4 separate regions of the Homo sapiens genome follow, and regions 1, 3 and 4 are each linked to region 2. Evidence: fine-mapped QTL for protein levels in blood plasma. A gene starts in region 2. Each other region holds a variant in brackets. All regions are shown on one strand. Distances are between the middles of the regions.

Region 1 (2,654 bases), 58 kb before region 2:
AGAACGAGAGCAACTGGTTGAACAGGTGTGTCAGGCACTGGGCATTCGGTGGGGATTGAGCCAGAATGTGATTCCTGCCTTGGTGGAATTCACACTCGTATGTGACCGACAACAACCAGTAAACAAACGAATGGGTGGTGACAAGTGCCGTGGAGGCCACAGTGATGGAGAAGCCCATTAGGGCAGTGGTCAGGGAGGTC[C/G]GCTCTGTGGAGGAGGCATCGCACGCACGTACAATGTCCCTGAGGCAGGAAAGGGCTTGGTGGGCTGGGAATGGGGGTGGAGGCTGCCATGGCTGGAGGTGGGCAGGGGAAGGCGGAGGCCAGGAGTTGGGGTTCATTCACAGCATAGTGGGAGCTGCCAGAGGCCTCAGGCAGAAGACCTGGTGCCTGACTTCTGTGCGGGTTTCTGATCAAAGGGGAAAGACGGACCCAGGAAAGCCGTTGGGAGGCTGCTCCCGAGGTCGAGGAGTGAGGAAGGAGGGGAAGACTGGGGGCACTCGGAACTTGTCTAGGGATGACCAGATGTCATGATGGACCTGGGGATTAAAATAGGTGATGGCATTAAAATACTGAAATTGAGACTTAAAAAACAGGCCAGGCGCGGTGGCTCACACCTGCATTCCCAGCACTTCAGGAGGCTGACGCCAGAGGATCGCTTGAGTTCAGTAGTTTTAAGACCAGCCTGGCCAACACGGTGAAACCCCGTGTCTACCAAAAATACAAAATTAGCCAAATTAGCCGGGCGTGGTGGCGGGCGCCTGTAGTGCCAGCTACTTGGGAGGCTGAGGCGGGAGAATCGCTTGAACCTGGGAGGTGGAGGTTGCAATGAGCCAAGGTCGCGCCACTGTACTCCAGCCTGGGCGACAGAGCGAGACTCCGTTTAAATAAATAAATAAATAAACCAATCACACAAGCACAGCACCGCAGCGCAATGGCAACGCCCAGGGCGGCCCGCAGACCCCAATCCCGGGCCCCTCCTGGCCTCTGCCAACGCAGCTCCCTGACCCGGAACTTTCGTGGTGTCGGGCGAGAGTTTGTGCCCACTTCCTGAGAGGGATGGGTAAGAAGAGGACCACTTCCGGCGAGGGACGGGAAAGACAGCGGCTTCCGGCGCGGCGGTTCCGGACAACCGTGCGCTTTTAGTAAAAGATTGGGGTTCGCGCGGGGGAGAAGGGCTGCCCCGGGCCCTCTGGTTCTCGTCCCGCAGCGTCCGCTCCCCCGCGCCACTGCGCCGCTCCCAGGAACCCTGTACTCCGGGGTCGCCGGCTTCTCTCCTGCCTCCGGTCCCGCCAGACACCTCGAGCTCCTTAAGTAGCTCGGTCCTTGACGTCCCTCTGGGCCCTTCCCGCGTCTATCGCCTGAGTCCCCGGGCCCCTCTAGCCCTCTGTTCCCTCCCCTCTTTTGTTCCTCCCTAGAGCCCCGCCGCCCTCAGGGCTGACAGTGTGGACGGCGGGAGTCTCCTCGCTCCCCTGCTGGGATTGACTGACCGAGCGTTTAGTGACTGCCCAGATCTGGCTGATGGGGGTACCGAGAGGTGGCCTGGGCCGGGAATGTCCAGCTAGAGTCTTCCGTGGAAGTCAGACATGAAACTGACAGGCCTAAGGGAAGCTAGGAAGTCCCCTCACCGCTCAGCCAGGGTGATGGGCTGGACTGACAGACTCCAGTGAATTTGAGCTTGCCTGTCAGGCTGATTGGCTGATAGACAGCCCTGGATTGGCTCACTAAGACTGACCAGCCCGGGACCAAGCAGTTCTGGGGTCCCAACCTGGGTGGAAGGTCTGAACTGATGACCCACCCAGGCTGACCAGGCCAGCCCACCTCACTGACCTCCTGACCCCTGACCTCATCACCTGTGCAGCCATGGAGAAGATGTCCCGTGTGACCACAGCCCTGGGTGGCAGCGTGCTGACAGGCCGCACCATGCACTGCCACCTGGATGCTCCCGCCAATGCCATCAGTGTGTGCCGCGACGCAGCCCAGGTGGTCGTGGCAGGCCGTAGCATCTTCAAGATCTATGCCATCGAGGAGGAACAGTTCGTGGAAAAGCTGAACCTGCGTGTGGGGCGCAAGCCTTCGCTTAACCTGAGCTGTGCTGACGTGGTCTGGCACCAGATGGATGAGAACCTGCTGGCCACAGCAGCCACCAATGGCGTGGTGGTCACGTGGAACCTGGGCCGGCCATCCCGCAACAAGCAGGACCAGCTGTTCACAGAACACAAGCGCACGGTAAACAAAGTCTGCTTCCACCCCACCGAAGCCCACGTGCTGCTCAGTGGCTCCCAGGATGGCTTCATGAAGTGCTTTGACCTCCGCAGAAAGGACTCTGTCAGCACCTTCTCGGGTGAGGCCACAGAGGCAGGTCAGGGCAGGTGGGCGTCTCTGCCGGTGCCCAGCCTGTCCATGCAGGCGGAAAAGGGCTCCGTGCATCAGAGGCCCTCAGGATCACTCCCAGAGGGCTTCCTCAGGGGGAAAGGGAATCGGCAGGGGAGGGATGGGGCAAGTTGGGCTGGACGGCATGTGAGCCAGGGCAGTCAAGTGGGAAGAGGCAAGAGATGAGACCAGCAGAAATTGAGGCTAGGTGTGGGGTGAGGGAGGGCAGAGCCCCAGCGGTCTCCCAGCCAGCCTGGGTGGTGAGCAGAGAGCCACTGACTCCCT
Region 2 (2,643 bases):
ATGCTGGTGACCACCACGTTGCCATACATCTGATCAGGGCGCATGATCAGGTTCTCTCGCTGGTGACTCTGCTTCTCCCAGGTCACAGCAGGCGGCGGGCGGCCGCTGACGTCGCAGTGGAGGCTGGCCGTACCCCCAACCTGCACCGCCTGTGGGGAGGGGCTGCTGTACAGGGCAGGAGGCACGGGCGCGGCCCCAGGTGTGGGGCGGGCAGTGGTCTCCGGCGGCCCCGGGCTGCTGGGCGGCCAGCTGAGCACGTGCTTGCAGGGCACGATGTGGAGGTGCAGGCCCCGCAGGCAGGCCTCGGCGTCCATATAGCAGCGGTTGTAGTAGGTGAGGCCGTCCGAGGCGCAGGTGAAGCTGGGCTCCTTCTCACAGCGGTCGCGGCAGCGGCACACGGGCTGCCCGTCCCAGATGTCGCAGTCCGAGCCCTGCTGTGGGCACACAAAGCCCTCGCAGGAGGCCGCTGTCGTCGGCGCAGCTGGGCTGCCGGGGAAGCGTGCTGCCACGCAGCTGTGCAGTCCACACACGTTGATGCAGCACTTCTCAGCAGCCGCACAGTCCTGGGGATGGGGGACACTTAGGTGGGAGCCCCAATGCCCCCCGCCCCGGGGCTCTGGCCTGGCCCCTGCAAGGGGAGGCCCAGGTGGGGTAGCAGGGAGCCCCCCGCTCTGTGGCTGCCTCCCCGGGGACTCAGTGTCCTTTCCATCCTGTGTGAGGAGCCACCTCGCCAGAGGTGCCACCTGGCTTACCTTCCAGAATCCTCACACCCACAAGCAAGTTCCGTTATTCTTTACGTTGTACAGACGAGGAAACTGAGGCCCAAGGAGGGCGTACAGTGCTCAGGACCACCCAGCAGGTGGTGCGGGCCAGGACAAAGGCTGGACATCGGCTGCAGCACCCCCACCACCATCTGCACTGGTCCCGGATGGAAGGAGGGTGGGAGGACAGGGAGGACAGTGGATGGAAGGAGAGGGTGGGAGGAGAGGATGGAAGGAGAGGGTGGGAGGAGAGGATGGAAGGAGAGGCAGTGACGGGGTGGGAGAAGAGGATGGAAGAAGTGGATGGGAGGAGTGGATGGGAGGAGTGGATGGGAGGAGAGGGTGGGAGGAGAGGCAGTGAAGGGGTGGGAGAAGTGGATGGGAGGAGAGGATGGAAGGAGAGGCAATGACGGGGTGAGAGAAGAGGATGGAAAAAGTGGATGGGAGGAGTGGATAGGAGAGGATGGAAGGAGAGGCAGTGATGGGGTGGGAGAAGAGGATGGAAGAAGTGGATGGGAGGAGTGGATAGGAGAGGATGGAAGGAGAGGCAGTGACGGGGTGGGAGAAGAGGATGGAAGAAGTGGATGGGAGGAGTGGATGGGAGGAGAGGGTGGGAGGAGAGGATGGAAGGAGAGGCAGTGAAGGGGTGGGAGAAGTGGATGGGAGGAGAGGGTGGGAGGAGAGGGTGGGAGGAGAGGCAGTGACGGGGTGGGGGTGGTCGCCGAGGATGATGGTGCCCCAGGGTGGAGGCACATGGGGAGCATGAAAGCTGGAGTGGGGAGGGCTCTTATTCTTAAGACAAATGAGGGCAACGATGGGGGTGTCTCTGGGCCCCTTAAGGGGCCCAGACCCAGACCCCCCAGAAGTCTGGGGAGCCCAGGCAGAAGGTGGCACCTCCAGCAGGGTCTTGCCCAGGCTGGCTGCTCTGAGCCCCAGGACCCCGGCCCGACCACACTCACCTGGTCCCTGCTACACTCGCGCTCACAGGTGCTCTGGGCGTCCACCCACAGGTTGGGGCTGAGCTGGTTGGGGCACACGCCCGGGTGGCTCCCCAGCCCTGGCAGCAAGCCAGCCCCCGAGGTCAGCCGGAGGAGGAGCAGGAGCGGCAGGAGTGGACGTAGGGCGGGCATGAGGGCCGCCGAGCCAGGGGGCCGGGGGGTGTGGCCACCAGCCCCTCCTCGGGCTCCACAGAGCCCAGCTTCCTGCAGGCATCCACCCTCCGGGCCTGTGGTCGGTGCCCCCACCAGGACCCCGGGGCTCCCTTTTGCCCCTGAGGCTGAAGCCTGCAGCAGATGCTTGTCCTGACACCCCTGCTGGGTGGGTAACGGGGTCTCCAAGTTCTCAGAGGCCGTCTGTGTGACGCTGGTTCCTCTCCAGCTTCAGCCTGGCCCCTCTGTCTGAACCGTGCGGGGGCTCCCAGGCCCTGGTCAGCACAGGGCAGAGGGGAGGAGGTTGGGGAGGGGCCAGAGGCCCATGAGCACAGAGCCACTGGCCATGAGGGTCACCGGGGCGGGGAAGGGCTGGCTCTGGCTGGAGAGGGGGAGGGGAGGGGACCCTGTAACCTGAACCCCTTCGTCCACCCCTGGGCTGAGATCAATCTCCTTGACGACCCTCAGTAGGGTGGGGGCAGGGCCAGCAGATCCCAGCTTTTGTCCCTGGCGCCCTCTGGACCCCAGGCTCCTATGCCATGGGGGTGGCAGGCACGGGCCCTCCCCGCAGAGCGTGGCTGACCACAGCCTGGGTCCCCCGGGCCAGGTCCAGGCTGGCAACGGTCACGTGCGGCCGAGGGCTTCACTCCGCTCCGAGGTTCCTTCCCCCCTCCATGGCTGTTTCAGGGGCACAGGGGTCTGCAGGACGCCCAGCACAGCCCGGCCTCCTCTGC
Region 3 (2,679 bases), 68 kb before region 2:
ACAGGCAGAGCAGCGCCTTCTGGCAGCGCTGCGGGTGTGGATGAGGGAAGCCAGGCCCCGGACCCATACCCAGACGGCCGCTCCTCAGCCTGTCCCCTCCCTCCTGTGGGCTCTCAAAGTGCGGCTTGGTTTCTCCATCTCGACCCTGAGGCCTGGAGGTGGGGACGGGACTGTGGGCGCCGGCAAACGTGAGCTCCCGAGCGGGGCGGGAAAGGAGCCCCGCGAATGCCTCCCCCAGCCCCGGCGCTCCACGTGCAGGCCCATGACTGGGAGCGTTTTCAACCTAAATCGGCACTGCGCCGGGATTATTCCTCCCCTGGCGCCGCCCCCGCCGCCTCCTCCGGATCCTTCCCGGCTTCTCCCCCACTCTTCGCCCCCGGGGCCCCTCCCTGCTGAGCGGGGGCTGCCGGGATTTGGGATTGCGGGGCTGCCCCGACCCCGCAGCCGTCCGCGGTGGAAGCCAGCCCGGGCCTGGCCCTGAGCGCGCGGCTGGGGCGGCCGCTGTCCATGGTGCTGGCGCGGGTGGCGCGCCGGCCGGCGGGGTCTGCGGAGGCCCAGGCGTCCCTGGCGGGGAAGGCGGCGCTTCCGGGTCTGGGGAGCGAGGGTCCCCGCTCTAGGGGCACGGAGGATATTTAGACTGGGGCGCCCGTGGGCCTGGTGCTGCCGCCTCGGGCGCCGGCATCCTGCGATATCCCCTCTCCCCGGCTCTGGGAGGGAACCGAGGCAGCCCCGCGCCAGGCCTCCCCGGACACCTGGGGCAAATTCGCTCCTCAGAGCCTCGTGTTCCTTCCCCAAACCTGAGGTAGCGACCCCTCCACCCCTAAGGGCGGCCGTGAGGTCGAATCATGTGCCGACCCCAGCCGGCCCTTGCAAACGTTGTGATGTCGGCCTCCGGAGGCCGCGCCTTCTGATCATGGGCACATGATGGGGGTCACCGGCTGTGGGTGCCTCCTCTGTGGAGGGCCCGGCCTCACCTTCCAGGACCCGAATGATACTCTGGGGAGGGGGAGATGGTACAGAGGGTGGAGCTGGGGCTCCTGCCATTAGGGCAGGAAGGACTTTAAACCCAAAGCTGGGTTCTCAGCCACGAGGGCCACGTGTTCTGGCGAGACCCCTGGTCCC[G/A]GCTCCGGTCTACACCCCCTCCCCAGATGTGGACCGGTGGCAAGGCTGGCCCTGTCTGGGGCTTGGAAGCCAGTGTGGGGACCTGCTGCTGGGAAGAGCGGGGCAGGACCTCCCACTGCCTCCCTGCCTCCCTGCCTCCCCTCCCCCCTGACCAGATTATGGGGAATGGGCTGCGGGCCTTGGGGTTGCAGTGCCGTCCGAGACCCCGCCACTCTCTGTGGTGGAGCAGGCCAGGCCCTGTAGCCCCAGAAGGGACACTCAGCCAAAAAGATGTGAGCCATCCTCTTCCTGAGAGTCTGCATATTGCAGGGCCCACCCCAAGCGTTGGAATCTTCGTGGGAGACTCTCAGACACCCCCTTGGTGGCTCCAAGAGACCTTCCAGTGAGGCTGTGGCAGGAGGGGGCAGGGTGGGCTGGGAGAGGCTTTGGCCCCTCCTCTGAGATTTTGGGGCAGGAAGGCAGGACCTGCATGAGGCTCCAGGCTTAGTCCTGGAGTCACCTAAGACCGGGGAAGATGCATCTTGCTTTGCCCTGGAGTGTGGCCGTGGGGCTCAGACATCACTCTCCCAGACCTTGCTATGAGCCACGCACTGAGCTCGTTCACTTTGCAATGCCCCAAGGGAGCAGGTACCGTCACCTCCCCAGGCTTCAAGGTGAGGAAATTGAGGCTCAGAGAAGGGAAGTGGCTTGCCAAGACCACAGAGCCAGGGTGGGGCCCATTTCAAGTCCAGGGCGTGTGACCCCAGGGGCTCTACCTCCTCCCCGGATGTCGGGGTGGGGGCGGCAGGAGATCCGAACTGTGGAGCAGATGGTGGCACAGTGAGGGTCCCACCTCTGCTTCTTTCCGTGGCTGTGCCCAGTGCCCCCTGCCACCCACTTACAGACTGGAGGCCTGAGGAGGGTGCCCGGGACTGCTCCCACTCCACCCTGTGCGTGGATGTCGCTGGCCTGAAGATAACCTCCGCATGGCCTTCCTCAGCCAGCTCTGCCCGAACTTTGGCTTCACCACTTATCTGGCCATGACCTCGGGCAGGCAGTTTGCCCAGCCTTGGCCTCAGTTTCCTCATCTGTGCAGTGGGTACAGCTATCACAGCATCGTTCTCATTGGGCAGAAGATTAAAGCGACAGCTTGTGTCCAGGGCTAACCATGCTGGCACCACAGCACACCCTGGGAAGATGCCCGCCCTTTCTTTGCATGGATTCTTTTTTCTTTTTCTTTTCTTTTTTTCTTTTTCTTTCTTTCTTTCTTTTTTTTTTTTTTTTTTTGAGACAAAGTCTCACTCTGTTCCCCAGGCTGGAGTACAGTGGTGTGATCTCGGCTCGCTGCAACCTCCGCCTCCTGGATTCAAGTGATTCTCCTGCCTCAGCCTCCCAAGTAGCTGGGATTACAGGAGCCTGCCACCAAGCCCGGCTAATTTTTGTATTTTTAGTAGAGAAGGGGTTTCACCATGTTGGCCAGGTGGTCTCAAACCCCTGACCTTGTAATCCACCCACCTCAGCCTCCCAAAGTGCTAGAATTACAGGCATCAGCCACTGCACCCAGCCCCTTGGGTAGAT
Region 4 (2,679 bases), 16 kb after region 2:
GCCAGTGGGGCAGGGGGAAATCTCGGGGCTCTGGCCCAGCAACCCAGGCCTGCCCACTTCTGCACACGGGCCACGGGCAGGGCGGGGCAGGGCAGGGCAGGAGCGTGGTCCATACAGTGTCAGGCCATCGGGCCCCACAGCCTAGCAGGCCAGCCTCTCCATGGGCACGGCTTGCCTGGAATGGGGCCTCCGCCTGTGGCCCGCGCTGGGTGCAAGGCACAGGGCCTCTCCCTCAGAGGGCATTGGGCAAAGGCAGGGCGTGGACTCCAGCGTGCCTGGAGAAAGGGCAGTGCCTTTATTTCCACCCTGACCTACTTCGTATGCATTTTGAAGTTGAATTCTCCAAGGCGAATGTATTTCCAAGTCTCGGCTTACTGCAGCCCAGGAACTGCCAAGGTTGGTGTTAGGGAGGGCCAAACAAGTTTAAAAATGCTGCTTCTGGCCGGGCGCGGTGGCTCACGCCTGTAATCCCAGCACTTTGGGAGGCCGAGGCGGGCGGATCATGAGGTCGGGAGTTTGAGAGCAGCCTGACCAACACAGTGAAACCCCGTCTCTACTAAAAATACAAAAAATTAGCCAGGTGTGGTGGTGGGCACCTTTAATCCCAGCTACTCGGGAGGCTGAGGCAGGAGAATCACTTGAAGCTGGGAGGTGGAGGTTGCAGTGAGCCGAGATCATGTCACTGCACTCCTGCCTGGGTGACAGTACTCAATAAATAAATAAATAAATAAATAAATAAATAAAATGCTGCTTCTCCGGACTCTGGACTGACCTCAGACAGCCACCAGCCTGCCTGCCACATTGGTATTTTTTTTTTTTTTTGAGACAGAGTCTTGCTCAGTCACCCAGGCTGGAGTGCAGTGGTGCGATCTCTGCTCACTGCAAGCTCCGTCTCCCGGGTTCACGCCATTATCTAGCCTCAGCCTGCTGAGTAGCTGAACTACAGGCGCCCGCCACCATGCCCGGATAATTTTTTGTATTTTTAGTAGAGGTGGGGTTTCACCGTGTTAGCCAGGATGGTCTCGATCTCCTGACCTCATGATCCACCCGCCTCAGCCTCCCAAAGTGCTAGGATTACAGGCGTGAGCCACTGCACCCGGCCTTTTTTTCTTTTTTGAGATGGAGTCTCACTCTGTCGCCCAGGCTGCAGTGCAGTGCCACAATCTCGGGTCACTACAACCTCCACCTCCCGGGTTCAAGCGATTCTCCTGCCTCAGCCTCCCAAGTAGCTGGGATTACAGGTGCCCACCACCACAGCCGGCTAATTTTTATAATTTTAGTAGAGACGGGGTTTTGCCACGTTGGCTAAGCTGGTCACAAATTCCTGACCTCAGGTGATTCGCCC[G/A]CCTTGGCCTCCCAAAGTGCTGGGATTACAGGTGTGAGCCACCGTGCCCGGCCCACATCACATCATTACTTTTTATTTCCTTACAGTTTTATAGGAAAAGGTCAGTCCAAGAGAAACTGAAAGGAGCAGACAGTTCTGGACACTTAACGCAGGCACGACATCTTAAACAGGCTCTGGGCCCTCTGGAAACTTTCCAGAAGCTTCTACCTTTAGGGCTCAGCCCCTTCCCCCACCTTAGAAACACCATTCACGTTTTGTCTTTTTATGACACTTTCTCCAAGGGGCTTGGAAACGGGCACTTTTTAAACATAAGCGACGCCCTCCCACGGAGTGCACCTGCCCAGTGGGCTTGTGTGTGTGTCTGTGCACATCTGTCTCTCCGTGCGGGCCCAGCCCTGCAAGCCAGCCATGCGGTCTCTCTGCCTACGGTGCCCTTCTTCAGGCATCAGCGCTTCCACCCACACCGTCCTTCTGCCTGACCAACCCCTACATGTACATCAAAGGCTGTTCTCATGCATCGAAGGACACCATCAATGGACAGAAAAATGCAACCCAGAGATGGAGGGAAATGTCTGCAGATCACACGTCTCCTAGAGACTGATCTCTAGACTCTACAAATAACTCCAACTCAACAACAGAAAACCAAACGTCCCAATTTTAGGATGGACGGATGGTCTCCCTCGGGTCCTCGTTTCCAAGACAAGAAGGAACAATGGTTGTGCCAAAAGGGCCACGGCTGTGAGCAGCCCATGACTGCAGGAGCTGCACCCAATGTGTACCCAGGGACAACGCCATTAAGCAGTTCATCAGGATGCGGTAGAGTTAGGCAGTTCACTATCGGGACGAGGTAAAGTTTGGCAGTTCACCATCGGGATGCGGCTGAGTTAGCAGTTCACCACTGGGACGAGGTAGAGTTTGGCAGTTCACCGTCGGGACGAGGTAGAGTTTGGCAGTTCACCGTCGGGATGCGGCAGAGTTAGCAGTTCACCATCAGGATGTGGTAGAGTTAGGCAGTTCACCATTGGGACGAGGTAGAGTTAGGCAGTTCACCATCGGGACGAGGTAAAGTTTGGCAGTTCACCATCGGGATACGGCAGAGTTAGCAGTTCACCATCGGGATGTGGTAGAGTTAGGCAGTTCACCATCGGGATGCGGTAGAGTTAGGCAGTTCACCATCGGGACGAGGTTTAGGCAGTTCACCATCGGGACGAGGTAAAGTTTGGCAGTTCACCATCGGGATGCGGCAGAGTTAGCAGTTCACCATCGGGATGTGGTAGAGTTAGGCAGTTCACCATCGGGATGCGGTAGAGTTAGGCAGTTCACCATCGGGACGA

Which allele goes with the higher level. Alleles are on the strand shown, and positions count from the first base shown. The strength of an association depends on the size of the effect and on how common the allele is.
In carriers of allele C in region 1, the plasma level of the protein whose gene starts at base 2,160 in region 2 tends to be lower than with G alone (weak association).
For the plasma level of the protein whose gene starts at base 2,160 in region 2, G is the low allele of the variant in region 3 and A is the other (moderate association).
In carriers of allele G in region 4, the plasma level of the protein whose gene starts at base 2,160 in region 2 tends to be higher than with A alone (moderate association).

The links. PIP is the posterior inclusion probability: the model's chance that the variant is causal. The UK Biobank Pharma Proteomics Project read protein levels with antibody pairs (Olink). The fine-mapping took linkage between variants from a reference panel, not from the people measured, so its PIPs are less certain.
Region 1: its variant is fine-mapped to the plasma level of the WFIKKN1 protein (UK Biobank, PIP 0.97).
Region 3: its variant is fine-mapped to the plasma level of the WFIKKN1 protein (UK Biobank, PIP above 0.99).
Region 4: its variant is fine-mapped to the plasma level of the WFIKKN1 protein (UK Biobank, PIP above 0.99).

Annotation. Positions count from the first base shown.
Region 1 is chr16:688,846-691,499 of GRCh38, reverse strand. It overlaps WDR24 (WD repeat domain 24), which reads left to right and starts at 1,102. Exons shown (of 9, transcript NM_032259.4): 1 at 1,102-2,340. The coding sequence starts at 1,860. RefSeq lists an enhancer at 674-1,221. The variant C/G (reference allele first, on the strand shown) is at 201.
Region 2 is chr16:630,502-633,144 of GRCh38, reverse strand. WFIKKN1 (WAP, follistatin/kazal, immunoglobulin, kunitz and netrin domain containing 1) reads right to left here and starts at 2,160. Exons shown (of 2, transcript NM_053284.3): 1 at 1,721-2,160; 2 at 1-563. The coding sequence starts at 1,891. RefSeq lists an enhancer at 2,067-2,643.
Region 3 is chr16:698,623-701,301 of GRCh38, reverse strand. All of the region lies in intron 1 of FBXL16 (F-box and leucine rich repeat protein 16), which reads left to right. Among named protein-coding and RNA genes, the nearest start is that of FBXL16, 5.8 kb to the left of the region's middle. RefSeq lists a silencer at 424-523 and an enhancer at 416-1,245. The variant G/A (reference allele first, on the strand shown) is at 1,123.
Region 4 is chr16:614,399-617,077 of GRCh38, reverse strand. The region is part of intron 1 of RAB40C (RAB40C, member RAS oncogene family); the gene reads right to left. It overlaps LOC124903618 (a long non-coding RNA gene), which reads left to right and starts at 814. Exons shown (of 2, transcript XR_007064934.1): 1 at 814-2,679. The variant G/A (reference allele first, on the strand shown) is at 1,346.